Regions from separate parts of the Homo sapiens genome. Here region 1 is linked to region 2. The links come from fine-mapping of genetic effects on gene expression. Tissue or cell type: whole blood. Region 2 holds a variant in brackets; the other region holds the start of a gene. All regions are shown on one strand. Distances are between the middles of the regions.

Region 1 (5,147 bases), 420 kb before region 2:
AACAACCCATATGTCCATATGGGTTGTTCCAGATAAACAAAATATGGTATATACATATGATATGGTTTGGCTGTGTCCTCACCCAAATTTCATCTTGAATTGTACCCCATAATTCCCACCTGTCATGGGAGGGATCCGGTGGAAGGTAATTGAATCATGGGGGCGGGTCTTTCTCCTGCTGTTGTGGTGATAGTGAATAAGTTTTATGAGATTTGATGGTATAAAGGAGAGTTCTGCATAAGCTCTCTTGTCTGCCGCTTTGCTCTCCTTGCCTTCCGCCATGTGGAACTGTGAGTCAATTAAACCTCTTCTCTTTATAAATTACCTAGTCTCGGGTATGTCTTTATTAGCACCGTGAGAACAGTCTAACACAATATACAATGGAATATTATTGAGTCATAAAAAATAATGAAGTATTGATACTTCAATGTGATGCTACAACCTTGTACTGTATCTGCCCGTAAACAAGCTGAGAACAATATACTAAGTGAGAAAAACCAAGACACAAAAAACCCACATATTGTATGATATGAATATGAAATATTCATAATAGGTAAATCCATAGAGACAGAAAGCAAAATGGTGATTGCCAGGGGCTGTGGGAGGGGAGAATGAGAATGACTGCTTAATGGTTGTGAGGTTTTCTTTTGGGTGATGAAAATGTTTTGTAACTAGATAGACATGGTAGTTGTACAGCATTGGGAATGTACTTAATTGCCACTGAATTCTACATTTTCAAGTGGCTAATTTTACAATATGTGAATTTTGCCCTATTTTTAGAAAAGTTGGGAAGGAATATGATAGCTGCCTTAAAAATCTATCATATGAAGATAGATTTTTTTTTTCTGGATAGTTCCGGAGAGCAGAATCAGGGGAAGTTACAGTAAGACAACTCTGAAATAATAAGGAAGAACTTTCTAACAATAGGGCTGTTAAACAGTGGAATGCGCTGCCTCCCAAGGAAGTAAGATTACTTTTTACTGAAAGTGATCAAGTTGGATGATGAGCTCTCAGGGAAGTTACAGAGAGGATTGCTGCACGGGGTATGACTGAGGTTTTTTTTTTTTTGGTTTAATTATTTTCAGGATCAAACTATCTTCCCTCCACGTTTGCAAATTCAGCTGATTCAGTTTTACCATTAGCAACTGACATAGAGGTCCTGGAGTTAAAGTATTCCTTCAGTTTCAGTTCTAGTGCAGCCCAACCCTCCCAATTTGTAGATGAAACAAGTGTGGCAGAGAAAGGGGAAATAGTAAATTACAGCAGAGTAAATCTTCAGGAGCTGAGATGTCAACTCTCTCAGTTCAGAGTTGGAGCCATTGCGGCTTCCTGCTGGTCGTTGGGGAAAATCGCACATTTACTCATTTAAAATATTTTGTAGGCACCTACTATATACTAGACGCTTTGCTAAGAGGCCTTGTCTTATGTGTAAATATGAAGGATCAAACCCTCAATTAATAGTGAGCAGTGATAAGCAACCACAAAGACAACTTCTAAACCACGGAGATTTCCAAAACTTTGGTCTACCACTTGTACAAATTCTACTAAAACTTCGTGAGATATTAACAAATGACAAAGTGAGTTCACCTGAATGTCACACCAGCCAAATTCGAAATGGTCAATAGGAGGTTCAACAAAAAAGCAAGCGACTTTGATAATCCCGAGACGGAAGGACGGGACCATCTATTCATTTTTGTGCATGTTTGAGCAGGGAAGTTGGAAGTCCACCTGCTCGGGCTGCGAGAGCCCTGGGACCGCTGCGAGGGAAGCAAGCCGAGGCGTGCGGGGCTCCCCAGGGAGAGGCCAGCCCAGTTCGGGAGGATCCCGGGGATGCCGCGTTCCTCGGTGGAATCTGGCTCTCCCGGGCGCTCCGGGGGAAGCCCAGGCCGACCGCCCCCGGCCCACCCGGCATTGAAACCCGAGGCTCCTTGGAGGATTGCGTAAAAGCCTCTCCCTCCCCCGTCTGCTCGGTGGCATGTTTCTAAAATTCCCATCTACACAACATAAACAGGAAACGTGCAGCAAAAGCCCTGTCGATGCAAATTCCTTGCTTCCAACCGAGGGCGGGAGAATTTCATCTTTGGTGGTGGTGGGGAGCAGAGGAAGCAGCCAGCTTTCCAAGTGACCCCTCAACTCTCCACATCCCTTCTTCCAAATCCAAACAGAATAGAGAAGGCGGAAGGAAGGACCCCCTGCTTTAGGAAAAATAGGGAGGCAGAGGGGGCCGTGAAGCAGCATCCAGGCCTCAAAGTGAACCACCTCCAGGGGCCGCGGTGGCGGCGCGTGGCGGGAACACGCCCGACCGCCCACTCCCCCAGCGCAGCAGTCCGCGAGGCCCGCGGAGGGTGGAGGTGGGCTCGCCGCCCGGGCTTGGGGCAGCCGAGCCAGCGCGGGTGGGGGCGGGGGAGGAGCGGGCACTAGGCGCCGCGCAAGCGCAGAGCGCGCCTCGGTTGTCAAACATGGCTGAAGCGCTGCCGCTGCCGCTACTGCCGCTGCAGGGAAAATGCTGAGCCCTCCCGGGCCGGGTGGGCGGCGGCGGCGAGGGCGGCGACGGGGACCCGCTTCCCGAGCGCGGCGGCGGCGGCCATGGCCCGGCTGGCTGACTACTTCATCGTGGTAGGCTATGACCACGAGAAGCCAGGTAAGGGTGTGGGGCGGCACCGCCCCCGGGCCTCCCCGCCCCCCGGCCGCTGTCCAGTGGGCTCCGCGGGGCCGGGCGTCGGGGACGGGCGTCGGGGAGGGCCAGGCCGAGTCTCGGAGGAGCGGGCGGTCGGCGTCCGGCCTTCTCGGCTGGGCTGAGCCTGGCGGTGGGCGTGGGGGGGCCGGCACGACGGTAGGGGGAGGGAAGACGCCGCGTCTGCCCAGCCCCTGGGCGCACCCGCTGGGCGGGCCGGAGGCGAGTTGGGGTCTCGCGACCCTCCCGCTGGAGGCTGCAGGGTACCCGGGGCAGAGAGAGCCCTGAGATTGGGCCCAGGACCGCAAGGCTGGGAGGGCGGGAGCCAACTGTGCTAAGTTCCTCGGGGATAAACTTCTGCCCTGCATCCTGAGTGAGTAACCAGTGACGCAGGGGGTTGTCCTCTCCGAAAGGAAGTGCTGAGAGTCCAGTGCTAACTCACCCCTGTGCTGTTGGGGGCCTAGTGACCTCCCCAAGGAACGCGTGGTACCAGGGAAGGGGACAGGATTCTTTGCACTTTTACCCCTTTCTAGGAAATGCTCCCTATTCTTTCAGGACAAATGTGACGGTCACTTCACAGTGACATGACTTGTCTTTTAACTAAGGACAGCCAGCTGACCGCTGAAGGTGATCTTGTTTCACTTTAATGTGTTTTCATTGTTCTTTTTATTTGTCACAGAATTTTCGTCGTAAGGAACAATTGGGCAAATGCATTGTATTTTACACTTTAATTGACGGACTTCCACAACTTAAGAGAATTCAGGGTTCATGCACGTTTATTTCTGTATTTGTATTCTCTTGTATTACTATGTAGCTAAGCATAATGTAATAACAAATTGAGCTGGGAAACCACTTCTATTTTAGGGCAATTCTAGTCCCACATTTGCAAGGAATTTGAGATATCAGCTCTACAGCCCCTTCATTTTTCAGAGATGCTGAGATTGTGTTTTCCTGATGGTTACAGCCATTGGTAGCTCAGAATACCATTGTTCTACCCACTCTTGGTCCACTCTCTCTTTCATTATTCCTCTCCTAAGAACTTCCTCTCCTTTAGTGGGAACCTTTCATGTTCTTTTCTCTTTCACCAGTCATGACCTGATTGAGGTCAATTGTTAAAGAGAAAGTTTAAATGTTTAAACTTCTGGATCCAAAATTTTATTTCCTAGTAATTTGGCATAGTCTGATGTTTCTTTTCTATCAAGATTAAGTGTGGGAAATCAGTTTTTTAACCTTTAGTTTTTAGTGACATTGTTCCGCCTCCCCCCCTCCCCACTTTTAAACAATTTTTTTTTTTTTTTTTTTTGAGACGGAGTTTTGCTCTGTTGCCCACGCTGGAGTGCAGTGGTGCGATCTTGGCTCACTGCAACCTCTGTCTCCCGGGTTGAAGCAATTCTCTGCCTCAGCCTCCGGAGTAGCTGGGATTTACAGGCGCCCGCCAACACGCCCGCTAATTTTTGTATTTGTAGTAGAGACGGGATTTCACCATCCTGGCCAGGCTGGTCTTGAACTCCTGATCTCGTGATCCACCGGCCTCGGCCTCCCAAAGTGCTGGGATTACAGGCTTGAGCCACCACGCCCGGCCAACAATGTTGAAACAATAACAGACTTGCAAAAAAGTTGCAAGAATGGTACAAAAAATTCTACCCGCCCCCCAACAATTTGAGAGGAAGCTGTTGACCTGATGCCCTGTCATCCCAGAATACTTTAATGTGCATTTTCTGCAAACAAGAATGTTCTCCTACATGATCACAGTGTAATAACCAAAACAGGAAATGGATAGTGATACAGTACTCCATCTAGTTCTCAGACTGGTTCAAGTTTTGTTGATTGTGCTAGTAATCTCTTTACTGGCAAAAGGATCCAGTTTAGCAATATGTGTTGCATTCATGTTATGTCTCTTTTGTCTCCCTCAATCTGGAACATTTCCTTTATCTTCTCCTGACTTTCATGACCTTAACATATTTAACAATTACAGGTCAGTCACTTTGTAGGCTGCCCCCTCAATTTGGGATTGTCTGTTCCTTCATGATTAGATACATACGAATATGCACGTGGGAAGGATATCACAGAAGTGATGCTCACTGCATCCTGTCAGGTGGTGCACAATTTCACTTTGTTTCATTGTTGGTTATTTTTACTTTGATTACTTGATATAAGTAATATCTGCGAGGCTTCTCCACTGTAAAGTTAATACTTAATTGTTTTTGCCATGTACTTTGAAACTATGTAAATATCTTGTTCCTCACTAAACTCTTAATCATTTATTGACATCTACATGGAGTCTGTGTGTGTGTGTGTGTGTGTGTGTGTGTGTGTGTGTGTGTTTAGTGGATTATATTCTGTTACTATTTGCCTTAGTCTATTCGGAAAAAGTCACTAGCCCACCTGCCCGAAGCACTGGCTTGAGTGGGAAATAGGAGAGTCTAAGCACATCCAGCCGAAGTGAGACCAGAAAGGGGAGCTCGCGGATTAT
Region 2 (5,147 bases):
AGACACCCCCTTCTAGGATAGCTGCAATCCATGCAGTCATTAGACAAGGAAAATATGACAGGAAAAGTAATTTGAAATCAAATCACAGAATGTCTAGAATGTCATGTTAAGGAGTTTAGACTAATATTATTCTCTGGTCACTAAGGAGTACGTAATACCATACTCTTGAGTAGGGCAGTGACGTGATTGTTTCAGAAACAAACTAGAGCAGTGTAGAAGATAGGAAGATGAGGGGTTAGAGCAACAGAGGCCACTTAGTAGGCTAGTATAATAGACAAGCACTGATGAGGGTACTTAGAGATCCACATAGAGGTAGCAGAAGTTACAAACCAAATCTACAGGGGCCAAACAAATAACGCAAATGAGTTAGCAGGCCACATGAAGAGCACATGTCCCATCTAAGGGGCAGCCTCTGCTTAGCTTCAGCAGTTGTTGCCATACAGGGATGTAGGAACATTGCTACCACATCTTTAGGCTTTTCAAAAGAAGCGCGAAATTTAGATTGTATGTAAAACCTCTTCAGTTTAAAATGTTGGCTTCATTTTTCAAAAATCCTAGACAGCCAAAACAAAACACATACTCAGCCAGATATAGTTAATAACATGCAAGCTTCACAACCTCCAGCTTTTAGCTTCTGATTGTGAATTGTTGTTGTGTGGTATAGTAAGGAAAAGGCCTGAACTCTGGGGCCACAGAAAGATCTGGATTTGAATCTTGGCTCATCCTGAGATCTTTTTTTTTTTTTTTTTTTTTTTTTTTATGAGACAGAGTCTCACTCATTGTCCAGGCTGGAGTGCAGTGGCACGATCTCATCTCACTGCAACCTCCACATCCCAGGTTCAAGCAATTCTCCTGCCTCAGCCTCCCGAGTAGCTGGGAATACCGGTGTGCACCACCACACCCAGCTAATTTTTGTATTTTTAGTGAAGACGGAGTTTTGCCACATTGGCCAGGGCAGTCTTGAACTCCTGACCTCAAGTGATCCGCCCATCTTGGCCTCCCAAAGTGCTGGGATTACAGACACTAACCACCAAGCCTGGCCTCATCCTGAGATCTGAAACAAATGTTTAACTGTCTGAACTTTTATTCTTCTACTCTAAAATGGTGATAACTAAAGATGAAATTATTCATGTAAAGCACCTAACCTAGTGCCTGGCATATAGTACGTGCACAGCGAATATTTGTTGAATGAAAGACAGGACATGAATTCAACTATAAATTGAATGTCTGCTTCACCAGTCACTGGATATACATTGACAAATAAAACAGACACAGTCCCTATGCTCACCAAGCTTAGCCCAGGTCCTCCAGCTGGCAAATGGCAAAACCGATGATGATGCATGTCAGCATCCTCCACTTTTGGGGTTGGAAGTCACAGGGCATACTTGATTATGTTGGTTTTTAGTGGACTCTAATATTTTCATTTAGGGCAAGGACTTTGTAGCCTGAAGATAGGAATTAGAATACTTTTGATAAGATACAGCCTAATAACATAATTGAGAAAAGAATGGAAAATGCAAAACTCATGACTCGTGAATAACAAAAGCAAAGATTTTAATAACTATGTGTCCCTAAAAAGAACTTTATGAATAGATTATTATTCTAGTTTAATTTTGCTTAGGTGGCACTGTTTCCTTTGTATTAGCCAGCATTGTTAGCATTTTTGAGAAGTCATAGATTTGATGGGGATTTGTGGAGGAGCTGCTAAATTACAGAAGAAATTATTATGGCAGAAAATCAATTATGTGGTGCTATAAATACTTGATTCAGTAACTCAGCAAATTCCCTTTATGTCCAAAGTGCAAACATTTTGTACCTAAGTCAAAAGGTCTGTTTTTAATTTCTGCAGCTTTGCAGTTGTTCCTCTTTGTCACTGATAGATTTTTACATGATAAGAGAGACGTAAAGATAAAGAGGGGTCACTTTCAGAGGGAGTTTTAAGTGTTGGGGAGATGAAAGCATGAGCTTAACCCTCGGTCATAGGCATGTTTCAGTACTGATAGCAGGAGATTACCTGGAAGAAGTCAGAGAGCCATCTTGAATGACTGTGGAGTTAGCTGGTTTTATTATACTCTTGGGTGACATTTCCAGCTAATAAAATTAGAATTAAAATTATAATCTTAGAAGCAAGCCTCTGGGAAATATGTAATTAACCTTTTGGAATTTAACAAGCATTGTGTGTACCTCCAGTACCTATATTTAAGATGCTTTAACCTAGCATTTGAATTGATGCCAAGATGTGCAAGACATGGTCTCTGCCCTCAAAGGCTATTAAGAGACAGACTATATGTACACAGATTTTTTTAAATTATTTAGGTTTAATTCATAAAAACCCTAGAAGAAAACCTAGGCAATACCATTCAGGCCATTGGCATGGGCAAGGACTTCATGACTAAAACACCAAAAGCAATGGCAACAAAAGCCAAAATAGACAAATGGGATCTAATTAAACTAAAGAGGTTCTGCACGGCAGAAGAAACTACCATCAGAGTGAACAGGCAACCTACGGAATGGGAGGAAATTTTTGCAATCTGCTCATCTGACAAAGGACTAATATCCAGAATCCACAAAGAACTTAAAGAAATTTACGAGAAAAAAACAACCCCATCAAAAAGTGGGCAAAGGATATGAACAGACACTTCTCAAAAGAAGACATTTATGCAGCCAACAGACACATGAAAAAATGCTCATCATCATTGGTCATCAGAGAAATGCAAATCAAAACCACAATGAGATACCATCTCATGCCAGTTAGAATGGCGGTCATTAAAAAGTCAGGAAACAACAGATGCTGGAGCGGATGTGGAGAAATAGGAATGCTTTTACACTGTTGGTGGGAGTGTAAATGAGTTCAACCATTGTGGAAGACAGTGTGGTGATTCCTTAGGGATCTAGAACTAGAAATACCATTTGACCCAGTGATCCCATTACTGGGTATATACCCAAAGGATTATAAATCATGCTGCTATAAAGACACATGCACACGTAAATTTATTGTGGCACTATACACAATAGCAAAGACTTGAAACCAACCCAAATGTCCATCAATGATAG[G/A]TTGGATTAAGAAAATGTGGCACATAAACACCATGGAATACTGTGCAGCCATAAAAAAGGATGCGTTCATGTCATTTGCAGGGACATGGATGAAGCTGGAAACCATCATTCTCAGCAAACTATCGCAAGAGCAGAAAACCAAACACCGCATGTTCTCACTCATAGGTGAGGATTGAACAGTGAAAACACTTGGACACAGGGCAGGGAACGTCACACACTGGGGCCTGTCGGGGGGTTGGGGATTGGGGTAGGGATAGCATTAGGAGAAATACCTGATGTAAATGACGAGTTGATGGGTGCAGCAAACCAACATGGCACATGTATACCTGGGTAACAAACCTGCACATTGTGCACATGTACCCTAGAACTTAAAGTATAATTTTAAAAAATTATTTAGGTTTAATTAATGATTTCATGTTTAGTTTTTAAAACCTAATTGTTGGCATTTTAAAAATATTATCTCTTAATGAGCATACAAAAATAGGAACAACACAGGAACTTACTTCATATAATACATTTCCTTATAAAACGGTAGAGTATTATTTATTTTTTAAAAACTCTACCTTGATCATCATTGTTGTCATAGAAATACTAATACTTTGTATTGTTATTATGGCTGCTATTTTATCTTGTATCAAGCCTAAGGAAGGTTGTAGCATAGCATTTCAGCACATTCTAGAGCAAAAAACTGTCCTAAATGTAATACAAAATAGAATGAAATAATTGTTAAAGAAGTATAAACAAAGTTCTAGGCCAGGCATAGTGGCTCACGCCTGTAATCCCAACACTTTGGGAGGCCGAGGTGGGTGGATTGCTCGAGGTCAGGAGTTTGAGAGCAGCCTGGCCAACATGGTGAAACCCTGTCTTTACTAAAAATACAAAATTTAGCTGGGGATGGTGGTGGGCGCCTGTAATCCCAGCTACTCAGGAGGCTGAGGCAGGAGAATTGTTGAACCAAGGAGGCAGAGGTTGCAGTGAGCCGAGATTGCCCCACTGCACTCTAGCCTGGGTAACAGAGCAAGACTCCATCTCAAAACAACAACAACAAAGTTCTACTTAAGATAGTGTCATAGTCTGCTTAGGCTGCCATATCGAAATACCACAGAGTGGATATTTTAACAACAGAAATTTATTTTCTCAAGATCAAAGTTCCAGCCAATTCACTTTCTGGGAACGGCTTTCTTTCTGGGTTGCAGATGGCTGCCTTATCACTATGTCACGTGGCCTTTCTTCAGAACGTGGGGCAGTGGGGAGAGAGGGAGAGAGAGAGCAAGAGCAAGAACAAGCTCTCTATCTCAGGATACTAATCCTGTTGGATCAGGGCCTCACCCTTATGACCTCATATAACCTTAATTACTTCCTTACTACAAATATGGGCACGCTGGATGGAGATAGGGTTTCAACATATGAATTTAAGGGGGACACAAACATTCAGTTTATAACACATAGTAAATAAAGAGAGAGCAAACAGGGAGGGCATTTTGAAAGAGGTATCATCTGAATAGGCCCTTGGAGAATGGATTTTAACCACTAGAGATTGGAAGGAGGGATTCCAAGTAGATGAAACAGCTTGACCAATGTCATGGCAGGGAGAAAGCAAAGAGTATGTTTAGTACACAGAGCATTCAACTCGTTCAACTGTGGGATACACCTACAGGAGTGAATAGTATTCAGGAAGTTGAGAAAGGGAGGATGTGACCAGATCGTTTAATACCTTATAAAACATCTGATGCTGGCTTCAGCACTGCTCCGTCTAGCTGTATGACCTTTGTTATGTTTCTTTTCTTCCGTTTATCTTGGCGTTCCCATGTATTAGTGAAAAAAAAAAAATCTCTGAGGTTTATTCTAACTCAGTGAGTTTACACTTAATAACAAGTTAAGTGATTTAAGTTTAACGAGTGTTATGTGTTTGTGTGTGCCTGCATACTTTCACATTTGTGTCTCACACCAGCAGATGTGCAGCTTCTGCAAATTTTTGATAATAGGCAGAAAAATCTATTTTGGCTTCCTAAGTTGAATTTCAATTTCTCCTACCCCTCCATGAATTGGGAAGCTTATTCAGCATATTCCAAGCACCCAAACTGGACCTTGCA

Evidence for each region. PIP is the estimated chance that this variant, and not a neighbour inherited with it, causes the effect.
Region 1: SBF2 starts here. The variant in region 2 is fine-mapped to the expression of SBF2 in whole blood (INTERVAL, PIP 0.95).

Annotation. Positions count from the first base shown.
Region 1 is chr11:10,291,509-10,296,655 of GRCh38, reverse strand. It overlaps SBF2 (SET binding factor 2), which reads left to right and starts at 2,437. Exons shown (of 40, transcript NM_030962.4): 1 at 2,437-2,641. The coding sequence starts at 2,587. RefSeq lists silencers at 2,300-2,349, 2,470-2,749, 2,780-2,859, 2,900-3,039.
Region 2 is chr11:9,875,697-9,880,843 of GRCh38, reverse strand. All of the region lies in intron 17 of SBF2 (SET binding factor 2), which reads left to right. All of the region lies in intron 1 of LOC101928008 (a long non-coding RNA gene), which reads right to left. Among named protein-coding and RNA genes, the nearest start is that of LINC02709, 120 kb to the right of the region's middle. The variant G/A (reference allele first, on the strand shown) is at 3,055.